Linked DNA regions of Homo sapiens. The protein of the gene in region 3 purifies or fractionates together with the protein of the main gene of each other region. This does not show direct contact. Each region holds a gene or a part of one and is shown on either strand. Other genes may lie near its edges.

Region 1 (7,878 bases), on a different chromosome or scaffold from region 3:
GGCCAAGGCAGGCAGATCACGAGGTCAGGAGTTCGAAACCAGCCTGACCAACATGGTGAAACCCTGTCTTTACTAAAAATACAAAAATTAGCCGGGCGTGGTGGCATGCACCTGTAATCCCACGTACTCAGGAGGCTGAGGCAGGAGAATCACTTGAACCCAGGAGGCGGAGGTTGCAGTGAGCCAAGATTGTGCCACTGTACTCCAGCCTCGGCATCAGAGCGAGACTCTGTCTCAAAAATAAATAAATAAAAATAAAAATATTTCATTGCATGGTTCGTTTCCATCTCTTAATCCTTCTTCTTATACTTTGAGAGATTCTCTTAGTATTTATCTTCTAATCCTCTTGTTTTTATTTTTGTAATCCTATTTTTAGTTTTCCTCCCTGACTACTTTTACTTCCTGACTACTTTTTTATCTACTCTCTTGTTCTTTTCTGGGGATATTTTGTCCTCTCAATAGTCTTACTTCATATAATATTTTATCTAAAGATACAACTTTAAAAAGTTTTCTTTTGCTCCCTGTCTTATTTCCTCCAATTTATTTTTGTTTGTTTTGGTCTCCTCTTTCATAGTAGAGACTGTGGTCAAATGTCTGGTACTCTACAGCTGTCTGTTCATATTTAAGGATCCAGCACTGAAAAGCTGCTGGGGAGCTCTGCGAGAGTGGGCAGGATCAAGCCATTCATTGGGGAATTCTCAAAGCAGTGTCTGTAGGGTTTTTCCCTTGGGCTTATCAGTTCCCTCAGAGAGGAATCTTCTAAATTCCTGCTTGGGGTATGAAACTGGCAGCCTTGTGTGAAATACACAGAGGAATGGGGCTGGGGGTATTGTGTTGAGATTACTGACTCTCACGTAATCACATTTGGTACAGTGCTCCCTCCTCCTCTTAGCTTGTTGGATATTCTGGAACTCAGATCCTTTTGATTAAACCTCTGAAACTTCCCATCTTCTGCTGGATTTGAGTAGGGGACTTAAAGGTCTGATTCTTATATAAGTTTGCAACCAACAAACTTGGTTCAGACGCATTCCACTTTGTGGAGGTTCCCTGTATCTCTAATCCTGGAGCCTTTTATTGGAGCAGATCACCTTGCTTTTTGTTGCCCCTCTCCCATCCCTATCCTTTGGGTAGGAAAGGTTTCTCTATTCTACTAAGTCAGTTATTTCTTGTCCTTCTTGTGTTAGTCCATTTTGTGTCAGTATAAAGGAATACCTGAGGCTGGGTAACTTAGAAAGAAAAGAGGTTTATTTGGCTCATGGTTCTGCAGGCTGTTTAAGAAGCCATCACCACCTGGCCTAATTATAATTTTTAAAAATAACGTTTATTTTTTAATAGTATACAGGTTCATTATAAAAACTTTTTGAACAAATAGAAAAACAAAAAGGAAAAATATTACTAGTAGACCTGTACTCAAAGATCACCAGAGGCCAAGTGCGGTGGCCCATGCCTGTCATCCCAACGCTTTGGGATGCTGGGGTGGGAGGATTCCTTGAGGCCAGAAATTTAAGACCAGCCTGGGTAACATGGCAATGCCCCATCTCTACAAAAAATACAAAAAATGGTCCGGGTATGGTGGGGCACGCCCATAGTCCCAGCTACTCAGGAGGCTGAGGTGGGAGGATTGCCTGAGTCCAGGAGGTTGAGGCTGCAGTGAGCCATGATCTGCAGTCAACCTAGGTAACAGAGTTAAGACCCTGTTTCAAAAATAAAAGATCACTAGAATCAACAATCACTCTTTAATTTTATTTTAACTTGATGGTTATCACTATATATATATGTATATATATGTATATATATGTGTGTATATATATATATGTATATATATGTGTATATATGTACATATATGTATATGTATGATTTTATAACTTTTTCCCAAAGAGTAATAATTTGAATTATTATGTTTCTTACACAAGTAGGCTGTTTCTAAGTGTCTGGGTTTTTAACATTTTACAGTTTTTATTATACTTACATTTTTTGGAGACCTAGTCTCACTCTTTCACCCGGGCTGGAGCACAATGGTGTGATCATAGCTCACTGCAGCCTCGAACTCCTCGCCTCAAGTGATCTTCTTGCCTTAGTCTCCTGAGCAGCTGGGATTACACATGGGTGCCACCAGGCCCAGCTTTTTTTTTTTTTTTTTTTTGAAAAGACATTTCCAAAAGTTAATTAGTTGGCATCTTTTCATTCATAGTTGTGATGGTTCACACCTTAATCTGAGTGAACTTTTTCTCTGCCACCTAGGATGGTCCTGGTCTTGTGTACGTCCACTCACTGGCCACTCATTCTGCTTTTCTCAATCTCTTCTTAGGTGTCAGAACTGGGAAGGTGGCATTGGCGGGGTACCAGGGATGGAAGCCCATGGTGGCTATACCTTCTGTGGCCTGGCCGCGCTGGTAATCCTCAAGAGGGAACGTTCCTTGAACTTGAAGAGCTTATTAGTAAGTATCTTTTGAGCCATCCCCCTCTCAGGCCCCAGGTCATGGTGATGTGATTGTACTCAGACATGCAGGCTTCAGGAGAGTTTGGCTATGGGAAGGGCTAAGAGAGTTAGCTCTGTTCCAACACAGAGGAAGGAGTGAGCAGCTGCTCTGTCTTGGCTCCCCCTTCTGCCTTTCTGTCTTCCTGCTTAGAGCTTTTTACATAGTGTGTAGACTACATAGACTGTGTGCTGCAGACATCTGGTGTGAGCAGAGTACCTTCCTTATACTTCAGTTTCGTAGAATTAGAGGTTATCGTGTGTTATAGAAAGAACCTCCTAAGAGGAAAAGTTACAAGAAGAGCTTTGCAGCATTTCGAAACCAAACTTTTATTACCTGCTGCACTGTGTAAACATTTAGTACCTACATTTAAATGAGTTGTTTAGGCAGAGCTGGCTAATTGCATTGAGAAGGCAGCCCAACATTTATGTCTGGACCCCACGCTCCTGGCCAGTATTCAGAAGAAACTCAGAAAGCAGTCAGCTTCAGGGAGTCACTAGATTGTAGTTAAATGATCAGTGGGTGCACAAACACACACACCTCCACGGCCACCAGGGAGAAGGCATTCCCCGTCATGTCATTTGGGGAGCATGTACCCCCTGACCATGACGTCAAAGCAAACCAGCTGCAACTGACATGCACCTCCTCTCCCTGAGTTCAGATGCCAGCCTCCCGTTATGCGGCCCATCGTGAGCTTCCTGGAGAGTTTCTGTTGTACCCTGTAGACATGTAACCAGCAGTGTCTTGCCTCCACCTTCAGAAAGCCTCCCCCGGTGTAGTCTTTTTAAAGATTCATGAAGGCTTGAAGGCTCATGCTGAAACAGCCAACTTTGTATGCTGAACTTAAGAGTTTCTCAGATGTTTTAAAATCTGAACACCAATAAGGCATGAAACAAAAAAGTCCCATCTCCCAGGCAGAGATAAGGAATGTGATTAGGGAGTGCCTCAGTTATAAAGACAGTGTTCTAGATTTGAACCCTGTCCCTACTACATTTGAGACATGAGTCCTTGGGCAAATTGTCTAATCTCTTTTAGCTTGATATTTTTTTCTTTTATAAGGTAGGGATAACAATCCTTATTTTTTTAAGGTTAAAGGAGAGAACATTTATAAACAGCCTGGCACATAGTAGGTACTTAATAAATGTTAGTGTCCCTCTAACCCACAGTAATAATCTTTTTGGCACAAGGGACCAGTTTTGTGGGAGATAATTTTTCCGTGGACCTGGGGTTGGGGGTGGGACGGGGGGTGATGGCTTCAGGATGATTCAAGTACATTACATTTATTGTGTACTTTATTTCTATTATTACACTGTAATATATAATGAAATAATTATACAACTCACCATAATGTAGAATCAGTGAGAGCCCTGAGCTTGTTTTCTTTCAACTAGACAGTCCCATTTGGGGGTGATGGGAGACAGTGACAGATCATCAGGCATTAGACTCTCATGTAGAGCGTGCAACCTAGAAGCCTGGCATACACGGTTCACAGTAGGGTTTGCGCTCCTATGAGAATCTAATGCTGCTGCTGATCTGTCAGGAAGTGGAGCTCAGGCAGTAATGGGAGCAGTGAGGAGCAGCTGTAAATACAGATTAAGCTTCACTGGCTCACCCACCACTCATGTCCTGCTGTGCAGCCTGGCATGGTCTGGGGGTTAGGGACCCCTGCTCTAATCCAGACTACTCCCTTCCATTTGCTTTGGGAGAAGTAGGACCCATATCTGAAGTATGAATTCCTATAGCCCAAGGAAACAGAACAAATCCATGGGCTTAGGCACTGGAAAAAGTAAATTAGTCTGCTTAAAAACACTTAAGCCCTGCGGTAAGTAGAAATGAGGAACCGACTCCCACTGCAGCGCCTGCTTTCTCTCTGCCTGAGTAATGCTTAGCCCACTTCCATTACATGCTGGAAGCCCTGGTTCATTTAAGATCAACCGAGGATATATTAGTACCTGAACCTGCAGTACAGTGTTTTCTGTCTCTTTTAAGCATTTGTGACTGTGACTCTCTATGGGCAGGTGTTGCCTTGAAGAGGGAATAATCTAAACAACAGCTTTTAGGGGAGGGCTGGCCCCCACTTCCATCAAGGGTCCCAGTGGCTCCTTTCAGGACCTTTACCTAGTAAGACTCTAGAAACAGGAAGTACCCTCCCCTGTACCCTTTCAGTTGAGTGAGGCAGCTCTGTAAGTCCGTGGCTGGAACGGCCTAGGTGGTCTAGGGAGGGAAATGGAAATGTCATATCTGCTCAGCCAGTTGGTTCTGCTCATTCTGAGGGACCAAACCCATGACTATCTTGATCTTTGTAGTAGAGTGTGTTTAGAAAACTTGTAGATAAGCAAGGAATGGTGGTATCGTGTGTGACCGCTGAGTGACATCAAGACCAAGACCTATTTTACAGCTTCAAAGTAAAAGATTTTCTTATATCAGCCACAGACTGGGCAGAGTTGTCATTTGGTAATTAGAATGAATGGCTTCTGCTTTCAGGCCTGCTAGTGACTTGCTAAGAGACCTTGGGTAAATTTCCCCAGGTGCCAAGTAAAAGTCAGGAGCAGTTTGAGATCATCTGATGAAATGTAGTACCAGGCCGGGCACGGTGGCTCACGCCTGTAATCCCAGCACTTTGGGAGGCCGAGGCGGGTGGATCATGAGGTCAGGAGATCGAGACCATCCTGGCTAACAAGGTGAAACCCCGTCTCTACTAAAAATACAAAAAATTAGCCGGGCGCGGTGGCGGGCGCCTGTGGTCCCAGCTACTCGGGAGGCTGAGGCAGGAGAATGGCGTGAACCCGGGAAGCGGAGCTTGCAGTGAGCCGAGATTGCGCCACTGCAGTCCGCAGTCCGGCCTGGGCGACAGAGCGAGACTCCGTCTCAAAAAAAAAAAAAAAAAAAAAAAAAAAAAAAAGAAATGTAGTACCAAATTCCATTTATCTGCTTTTAATAAACTCCCCGGAGCAGGGAAGTAATGAGAAATGAGCTACTGGTAGTCTTGCCTTCAATTTCCAACTTAAGCCATGTTTATTAAGAGACTTTGAAGGTCTCCTTACAAACCAGCTTGGCCTCTTTATCTTCTCAGCACTGGCACTGCTTTGGAACCCAGGAAAAGGTAGTTGTCTGCCAGGCATTGAGCAGAGATCAGTGCTGGATGCCTCTACAGCGTTGGCTTAAATGCTTCACTCTGTGTCTATGGCAGTGTGGGGAGGGAAGGAAAGAAAACCAGAGCACCAAAACTAGAGTGCCAAGAAGCCACAAGATGGGAAACCCTCCATCCCACAGATTGACTCCTGGAGATTCTGTCGGGCTGGATTTTGTCTCTTTTAGCCTACAACTGCCTTTCCCATCTGTGTCTCCTCAGCAATGGGTGACAAGCCGGCAGATGCGATTTGAAGGAGGATTTCAGGGCCGCTGCAACAAGCTGGTGGATGGCTGCTACTCCTTCTGGCAGGCGGGGCTCCTGCCCCTGCTCCACCGCGCACTGCACGCCCAAGGTGAGCCTGGGGAGCTGTTCACTTGGGGCTGGATGATTTCCCTCCACTACTCACAAAGTCTGGAAGCCCAGCGTGCTTTTTTAGAGGGGTTGAAATGAGCTCTGTCTATCCTGGATTTTGAGTGCCCAGTGTGGAACCTCATGCCGTGGGGCATGCGAATGCAGAGTAAGATTTAGTTTCATTGGTTTAGTGTCATTCTTTGCTTCTTCAAATTGGCTGCGACAGAATGAGCTTCCTTGAAATTGCTACGGGGAGCGGGGAGGAAGTGGGCGCTGCTTCTGCGTTATCTGGAAGGAGCAGCCCACTCCTGTCCTGGGCTCTGTGGTGATTGCCACCTCCTCTGGGTGCAGGGCAGAGCTGAAAACCCTCAGTGTTGCAACAGTCACTGTTGCAACAGCAACAGGAAAGGCAACTGCGTAAAGGGGTAGAGAACCAGAACCCATGTGTAGGGGTGGGTTGTAGGGGTGGGTTGCCCCTACACCATGGAGAAGAGACTCGCCGTGTCTGACTGGCTGCAGAGTTGTCACTATTAGAAATGTTTTATTTTACATTCATTGAATAAGCCTAAATGGGAGTTTGTTCCACCTGCACCATTGGAGTAGAGAAATCCACGTTCGTTTCTGTGGGGTCTCAAATGGGAACGCAAAACCGAAGTAGTTAGTGAGCAAAAAGTCTGGGAACATTCTCTCTCTATCTCTTGAAACCTCAGTCTGCCTGCTAACTCCTGCACCATCTTTCTGGTGTACTTGATGTGAGAGCAGGTGTCTCTGAGTAGACCTGTGGGAGAGAGGAAGTCATGGGGCCCTGCTGGTTGCTGATCTGTTTTTGGAATGAGATCCCTGGGTCCAAAGAGAAGCTGTTCTTCGGACTTAGTTGGATAATGTAACTGCTCAAATGTAAAAGATGAGATTCTTTTCTGCCCCTCCCCATACTTTTTTTTCCTGTTTCTGAGCCCCCCACCCCCCGTCTTCCCCCCTCCCCGCCGCCCCCGAGATGGAGTCGTGCTCTGTCTCCCAGGCTGGAGTGCAGTGGCACGATCTTGGCTCACTGCAGCCTCCACCTCCCAGGTTCAAGCAATTCTCCTGCCTCAGCCTCCTGAGTAGCTGGGACTACAGGCGCGTGCCACCACACCTGGCTAATTTTTGTATTTTTAGTAGAGACAGGGTTTCACCATGTTGGACAGGCTGTTCTTGAACTCCTTACCTCAGGTGATCCGCCCACTTCGGCCTCCCAAAGTGCTGGGATTATAGGCGTGAGCCACCGCACCCGGCCCTGAGCCTCATTATTTAGTTTCTTAATTTCCTTTGAGTTGTTGAGTTGTGACCATTTCTGACACTGAATTAAAGTAAGCAGAGCCTCTGTCCCATTTTCCCGGCCTGGGCCCACTGGGCTTTAGGTGTCAGTATTAAGGCATATAAGGCACTTACCCTTGGAACACAGCAAGTGCACTGTCAGCAAGTGCACTGACTTTGGAGCCTGCACAGTCTCTGCCTTGACCACCAGTAGGGAAGTCAGGAATTCCCCAAGTCAAACATTTTTTATTTTAGTATTATTTTTTTTTGAGACGGAGTTTCACTCTTGTTGCCCAGGCCGGAGTGCAATGGATCACTGCAACCTCTGCCCCCTGGGTTCAAGTAATTCTCCTGCCTTAGCCTCCTAAATAGCTGGGATTATAGGCATGCACCACCACGCCCAGCCAATTTTGTATTTTTAGTAGAGACAGGGTTTCTCCATGTTGGTCAGGCTGGTCTCGAACTCCTGACCTCAGGTGATCTGTCCGCCTTGGCCTCCCAAAGTGCTGGGATTACAGGCGTGAGCCACCGTGCCTGGCCCAACATTTCTAAGATAGAAAAAAACTTGGGGTCATGGTGATCTCTTTATTTGGAACTGGTGAGGTCAAGCCCCTGGTAAAATGG
Region 2 (3,074 bases), on a different chromosome or scaffold from region 3:
TCCTATTAGCTTTCTCCCTCACATGGCTGGAGAATTGTAAGAATCCTACCACTCAGAACAAAGTAAGCGAGCTTAAAGAAACCCATGCCAAACTTTGTTTTTGTCCCGTAATTACCATAAAATCCCAATTATTAAGGCAGGAGTACTACACTTTACAGTTTAAAGCAGTGTTTCCTTCCAGCCCTGTTTATTCTATTCTCCTTTGGGTTTGAACTTCAAGGTCTACACTAGATACTTTCCAAGGCTGCTTCCTCTGTTGGTCAGATCAGACGCTGCTTTGTTAGCTGTGGTTGCTACAGAAGCTCTGTTTCAGTTCCAGAGCTCTGTGCTGATGGGGACAATGGAATATGATGCAATGATCACCAGTGATTCTCAGTCTCTCCTGAGACACCAGAAGGTAAGTCACAGTCTGAAGAGTCTCACTCAACCTTCTCAACACAATCTAGCTGAGAGACATGGGGAGAGGTGGAAGCACAATATTCAGTAGAGGAAAAACAAGATCTTGTTCTCTGACAGGTTTATTAGCTTTCATGTTAATGGATGTTTTTAAACCCTGCAACCCTCTGTCAACTTCTTTCCACATCAAGAGGCCATGAGATACAGTAATGGCCTCTTAAGAGTCATGCCACATAAAGATGATGACTTTGATGTCCTGGCCTGCCTCCTGTAACAATGTGAGGCTGTTTTGGGTACATGCTGTAATAACAACAGGACTATCACAGGAACAATGAAGCAGAGAAGCAGAAGGTGCCTACAAAGTTTTACCTAAATGTCTTGTTTGTCAGGATGGAGCTGATGCGCCCATACTGGCAGAACAATTAGCACAGAGTAGTTCTGAAAAGGAGGAAGAATTCACAAAGCATCAGTTATGGGTGCAGGGAAGTCGCCATCTGCCAATGGGCACCAGAGTGTCACTGTACTGGAAGGGGAAAAGGAGTGGGCTGGATGAGATCCAGGGGCCTCTCTGCCCATGTTCAAAGTCAGTAGCTGCTCTGCCTGCCGGCATCACAGTGTCAACACATTTTGTGTGTGTCTCACTCAGTCTCACACCCAAGAAAGTAAAAACAATTGATGTAGGAATAAGGGGAATGGATAAAGAATGGTACATGCTTATTCTAAAGCAGGAGAGCCTACAGATTGTTGTCAAAGCTCATGTCTATCTCTGTCCTCGAGGCCTCCACACCATCTCCCTCTCCCTCCTCCAGAATCCAAGGGATGAGCCCGTTTCCCTTTATGAGACGAGGTGGAGCAGTACCTCTAGTTTTTGGCTGCTCATGGCCTCAGAGTTGCTGTTTGGAAAGGAAAAAGAGCAGCAGAGGCAGCAAAGAAAAGTACTAGGGCAGCACCTTTAGGTTAGAAATAGATTCCACAGTTAAAAGCACAAGTATAATATGCATTAAACAGAGAAGGGCCTCAATAGAATGGTCACAATATGCAAGTGTGTCCCACTCATTTACAATATTAGGATTCCAGGAGCTGCCAGAAATAAGTCATCTCATTAACATACCTACCTGCAGTTCTGATGTCTGGCTATTAGTAAACAAGGCCTACGTTTGTTTCTCTAAAATTTAGAATCTTAAACTAAATCCTTTATTTCAAAAACAAACATAAAATAATTTCCCAGGCAGAGAAAAGGTTTGAGATGGAAGCGTTCTTGTTAGCAGTCCCTTCCTGCATAAATGGGGTTGGAGAGAGAGGAGAGAGGGAATGGCCAAGGGTATGGAAAGCTTTCACAATGCATGCCGAGTGTGAAGTGACACCCCCAGCAGATGGGGTTTATCATCTTTACTTAGTCACACAACATCAAGGACTGGTTAGTTCCAGGGAAGGGCTCCATTTCACTACCTGGGTCAGTTCTCTTCCCCCGCATGCTCCACAATGCAGTAGAACCAAACAACACATTCATTTACAATAGAATGTTTAAATAACACCTGTCCAATAACTGCCCTTACTTCTTTGTGCTGTCGGGAAAAGAAAAAACAGAAAGCAATAAAACCCAAACCCTTTGGCAAGCCAGCCGGTGCCTATTCTCCTGGGGCATTTTTAGTGGAACTTCGGCTGGGCCTTGCCCTCCTCCCAATATCAGTGAGGAAAGTGGCAGCGGGACAGGTTTGGTCATCTGCAGTGGAGTAGAAAGAGGAACCAAACACGATTCGGGCCACAGGTGGATTCTGGCACATTTTTAGATTGGATTGGTTAAAAATGTCATGTTGTACACAGGATGCAGGCAAAGGAGTTTTTTTTTGAGGGACATAATGCCTATAGGCAGCATGAACGGTCCGATCTACCCTTGGGGAGGAGCTCCCTGTGTAGGGACGGAGAAACTAGGGGGCCTCGAGGAAGGTGTTGGTTCGGAAGATGGAGGAGACAATCTTTCCGGTGGCATTGATGGTGCCTTCGCTGTCTGAGCTGGACTCGGAGTCGCTGCTCCCAGAGTAGGCACCCAGGCCTGGGAGGATGCCGATACATACTGCAGCAGAGGGGCAGTGGATGGAGGGGCCACTCAGGGAGGTGTTTCCGAGAGACTTGCAGGATGAGGGCTCTGCAATAAAAGGGGAAAGACTGTCACTTCATCACCCTTTTCCAAAGTTGGGGACTGACTTACCATGTGCCAGGCACTGTACCAAGGGATTTTCCCACAGAGGAGCCTTAGAACAATGCTATGCAGCCAATACTATCATCACCCTCGTTTTAGAGATGGGGAAACTGAAGGAGGAAGGGAGGCTCCAGGAGGTGAAAGGACTTCTGAAAGTAAAGGGGCAGAGCTGAGACTTGAATCAAGGTCTTTTTAACCCCAGAGCCTGACTACACTCTCTTGTTCCCCATCAAATCCGAGTTGGAGAACAAGCTACTCTGGAGTGTAGCCTAGAGTGCTTTGATTTCCCTGTGCTCACACAGCCGTGAGAATCTGAAAACAGATTAAGAGAGACACTGTGAGCAATATTAACAATTCCATTAAGTTCTCAGCGTATTACACCATTTCTTATTTACTGACCAATAAGCCAGCTAGCACAGATACAATTTTAAGGCCAAACATCAGCTACAAAATAACATTCTTTTCTTTTTAAACATTT
Region 3 (4,147 bases):
AGCAAAAGGTTGTGAATGTAAACGTACGTTTGGCTTGTTAACAAGCAGCTAGTTCCATAAAGGTGAGTAGTTAGGTAGCTGCTGATAAGTGAGAAATGGAGCCGGGACTGACTGGCCACAGGGCTTTATTATGATGGCCGTGGTGTGGCGTGGGAAAAGGCCAAACATTTGTTCAATGCCCCACAAACTGGCTTCTCCTACATCAAGCTTGATTTGCTTAAACCCCCCTGAAACAGACATTAGTATCACTATTTTATAAACATGAAATAGGCTCAGAGAGGTCATGTGACTTCTAAAAAGTCACTCAATATAAAATCAGATTCAAACACTTCAATTTTTTCCCAGTTAACTGTTAAGCAGCCATTTCTAGGGTGGCCTCCTCCCCAAATCTGTGTTACTGGGCCCAGAGGAGGAGCTTTAGGTTGAAATGGTTAAACAAAGAGAGGGTGGTAGTGGGGAGACCCTGGTTGTGGAATTGTGGGAGGCAGGTGGCCAGAGGCCTAAGTGCCGGGGCAGGTGGGATGAGGTGGAAGGATGTACTGCTGGGATTCCCTCACTCCCAGACCTGCCCCTTGCTGCCCTGGCCATGCTGGGTCCCCGCCTTCGTATACAGCCCTCCCATATATTCAGTGGCGTTCCCAGTGGGCAACTGGGGCCCAACTCCGGCTCTCTGGAGCAAAGTGGAAGTTGCCAGTCTCACTCAGGCCCAACCCAATCCAGCCTCCACTTGGGGCTCCCTGGGCAGGCCCCCACGAAGGCTAGTGCAAGGGAGCTCCCCAGAAAGGGTCAGATTTTTTAGCTGGGAGGGCGCTGTCTTGACTGCCCGCTGACAGCGCACTCAGGACAGAAGTTCACGCAAAGGTTGATGGAATGGAAGAGTGAGTAGAGATTATTTTCGAAAGTTGATGGGATTGAAAATACCCAGCAAGGGAACTGCAAGGGAGACTGTTCAGGAAATGGGCTGGAGTGCAAGCTGGGTGGGAAGACCGCTGAAAGTGGTTACTGGGGTGGAATTTGCACGGGAATTAGCGGGGTGGTGGGGGCGGAGGTAGGCACCGACCGTAGGGGAGCTCCAGGAAGATTGCGCTGGGAGCAGGAGCTCGGGAGCACGCAGCAGCCACTATGAGGTGCTAAGCAGTCCCCGCGCTGTGGCTCCGCCCAGGCTGGTCCGCGCGGCAGCTGATGCCCAGTCTTGGTGCCCAGTAATGGTGGGGAGGAGTGTGTGAGTGGGCGGGGTGGGAGGGGGGGAGAGTCCATCCAATCGTTCTCCCTCTGTCCCAAACTGGAGATCTATCTGCATCGCTGCCCTGACCCCCAATCCCGGAGAGCTCTGTGCCCCTCGATGGCTCCACTGCTCTCCCGAGGGCGCCCACTCCATGCAGCCTGCCTCTGGGGAATATGGAGGTCTTCGTCCGGAGAAAACTCGGGCTCCCTTGGCTTTCCTCTCCCCAACGGCATGGTTAGGACCCTGTGACTCCTACCGACAGAGGGTGACCCCGGCCAGATGGGGTCGACCAGGGCTTGGGGTTGAGGTCTTCAGATTGAGGGTGGACCTGCCATGTCACCCTGGAGCAGTAGAGATGCAGTACCAGCTCCCCCTCCTGATCCGGTGCCTTCTGTGATCTGTGACCAAGGCAGGACACATTTGGAGGCCCAGCTGACATCCACTTTTTGACACCAGCCACAGTGCAATCAGTTTTTGACAATCAATTTTTGACAATCAGGTCGCAATGCACGCGCATGACCTACAGGGTGCTGGGGCTATTCCGCCTGCCTCGTGACTTCTGAGCAGGCTCTCATTTCGCCTTTTCCCTTTCTTGGGAAAATGGAATGGGGAGCAACCAGGAGCCCTTGCTCCTGCCACTTTCTAGCTGAGTGAGCCTGGGCAAGTTACTTGCTGCCTCCGCGCCGCGGTTTCCTCTTGCGAGCTCGCGGGGCGATTGTGAGGCACTTTGCACCCAGGAAGCACACGAGCGCCCTGACTTCACAGAGCGCGCCACTCAGGAGACTAGCTCGCGGAGGTGGGGGAGGGGTGCTGCTCGCTGGCTTCTTTGGTTCTAGACTGACCTTAGGGGCCTCGGGGTGGGGGTGGGGGAAGCCTGAAGTCGCGACACAGGCTCCCTCTACCGAAGGCCTCTTTCCTTCATCCTTCCCAGCCCCAGACAAACAGGCAGAGTAAGCAGTATTCGTCTTAGGTGCCATATGGAAGATCTTATTTGTAGACTCGTGAATTTCGCCACCCATTCCTCCCCTTCAGCTGATGGCGCGATCTCCACCCTCTGCTCGCACCTCTGGCTCTCGTCCAGGTCACATCAACCTGCCAGCAGAAACCTCGGTGTTAGGCGCTAAGACTGTCCCCAGGGGGCGCTGGTCGTTTGGGGAGCGGGCGCAGGGACAAGGGTGCTGTGGTGTCTGGTAGGTTGGAAATGCCTTTGCTAAAAAGGAAAAGCCTCCCTTTAAGCTAGACCCGGTGGGCACTCACCCCCTTCCTTTCGTGGGACTTTCATTCTCCCACGAAAGGGCTGCGGTATTTTCTTCTTTTTTTGCTAAGGAACTTTCTGCTCAGAGTAAATCTTTTTTTCCTTTCTTTTTTTTTAAGACAGGGTCTTGCTCTCTTGCCCAGGCTGGAGTGCAGTGGCGAAGTCACAGCTCACTGCAGCCTCGACTCCTGGGCTTAAGCGATCCTCCGACCTCAGCCTCCTGAGTAGCTGATACTACAAGCGCAAGGCACCACATCTGGCTAATTTTTAAATTTTTTGTAGAGACAGTGTCTCATTATGTTGCCCAGGATGGTCTTGAACTCCTGGCCTCAAGCAGTCTTCCTGCCTCGACCTCCCAAGGTGCTGGGATTACAGGCGTGAGCCACCATGCCTAGCCTGTTCAGAGTAAATCTTATTTGAGGCATGAATCAATCAAACATAAATAGAGAGTTGAATTGATCTTAGAGGGAATGGGATGCAGCAAAGCCCTACTTGACCATCTCCCCCCTCCCACATTTGGAAATCCTTAAACCCACTTATGTAGGCCTCTGACTGTGAGATTCAGAGCCACAGCAGTTTCCACCTCTGCTAAGGCCTTCAGGCAGTGAGATGGCTCACTTCAGTGCCCCTCCTTCCACACATCTCCTAGCTGTATCCTGAGACGCCTCAACCTAGTCACTACCCTTCTGTATGATGTTGGTCTAAGGCTTCCCCCTCTCTGGACATGAAGGCGGAGCCTCCCAGCACTACCAGCCACACACCACTCAAGACTCCAGATCCTGAACCCTGACTCTGGGGCCCAGCTCTGGGCCTGGCTTGGGGCTTGCATCTCACCTAGCCTGGCAGTGTTGTTGTCACACCCACCTTGTATGGATGCCACATAGGCATTTCAAGTGATGCGGAGCAGAAGCGGGTGCAGCGGCGCTTGACCCAACGCAGGGTGGAGGATCTGCACATCACCCTGGGCGCCGGGAGGTGGATTCGTGTGGGCAGCCCCTCAAACCAGATCCACTGGTCGGCTACATCCAGCTGCTTCATGTGCCCCATGGGAGTTCTATTGCGGTAGGGCTTAATGAAGATGACTCGGGGGCCCTCGGTGAGTGGTTGCCTCCCCTGGACTCCAGGGTTCAAGCTATCATCCCTCGATGTCCTTGGAACCTCAGGCTCTATATGCTTTTCTTTCCGTGGCATTGCCGCCAATGACGTTTTCTCCTTGTTCCTCATCCCTGACTGCACCTGGGACTTCCACTCCTTGTACTCTTTTTTCTTAGGGTCCCCTGTGGACTCTAATTTCTTGGACTTGAGTTCCTTCTCGGAGCACCCGATCTCCTGGAACTCTTCATTATTTTGTTTTGTTTTATTGCAGGCACTGTTTTCCCTGGCAGGGAGAGGAAAGGCAGTCAGCACAGCAGGACCGAGGCCCTGGTTCCCGAGACAGTTGCTATGTAGCCAGCTCAGGGGAGCCTGTTAAGAAAGGCTAGAGGGGCCTGCAAAGAAACTTCTCTACTGCCCAGAGGCCTTGTGCTGGTGTGAGGAGGTGTGATGAGCACTAGCAGAGGGATGTGAGAGATTGGGAAGGTGAAAGCCATGACTAGTAGTTAAGGCCCCTAAGAATGAATATTGTCTACATCATCTGCCACTAGATTAGGGTTCTGTCTCTCTGGACT

What was found.
Region 1: the proteins of TP53TG5 (region 3) and FNTB purify together in Homo sapiens (affinity purification with mass spectrometry, with the first as the bait; 2 studies listed by BioGRID). This does not show direct contact.
Region 2: the proteins of TP53TG5 (region 3) and PSME3IP1 purify together in Homo sapiens (co-immunoprecipitation; 3 studies listed by BioGRID and IntAct, with this or other methods). This does not show direct contact.

What each region holds. Positions count from the first base shown.
Region 1 is NC_000014.9:65,038,482-65,046,359, forward strand, and holds part of FNTB (protein farnesyltransferase subunit beta), read left to right. Parts: intron 1-2,308; coding exon 2,309-2,438; intron 2,439-5,829; coding exon 5,830-5,962; intron 5,963-6,206; exon of another isoform or gene 6,207-6,288; intron 6,289-7,878. Other genes in the region: CHURC1-FNTB protein, read left to right, coding at 2,309-2,438, 5,830-5,962. UniProt on the Homo sapiens protein: Essential subunit of the farnesyltransferase complex. Catalyzes the transfer of a farnesyl moiety from farnesyl diphosphate to a cysteine at the fourth position from the C-terminus of several proteins having the C-terminal sequence Cys-aliphatic-aliphatic-X.
Region 2 is NC_000016.10:57,151,966-57,155,039, forward strand, and holds the end of PSME3IP1 (PSME3-interacting protein), read right to left. Parts: intron 2,543-3,074; coding exon 2,325-2,542; 3' UTR 501-2,324; downstream 1-500. UniProt on the Homo sapiens protein: Promotes the association of the proteasome activator complex subunit PSME3 with the 20S proteasome and regulates its activity.
Region 3 is NC_000020.11:45,371,695-45,375,841, forward strand, and holds the end of TP53TG5 (TP53-target gene 5 protein), read right to left. Parts: exon of another isoform or gene 3,859-4,147; coding exon 3,345-3,858; exon of another isoform or gene 2,601-3,344; coding exon of another isoform or gene 2,600-2,600; intron 2,318-2,599; coding exon 2,213-2,317; 3' UTR 863-2,212; downstream 1-862. UniProt on the Homo sapiens protein: May play a significant role in p53/TP53-mediating signaling pathway.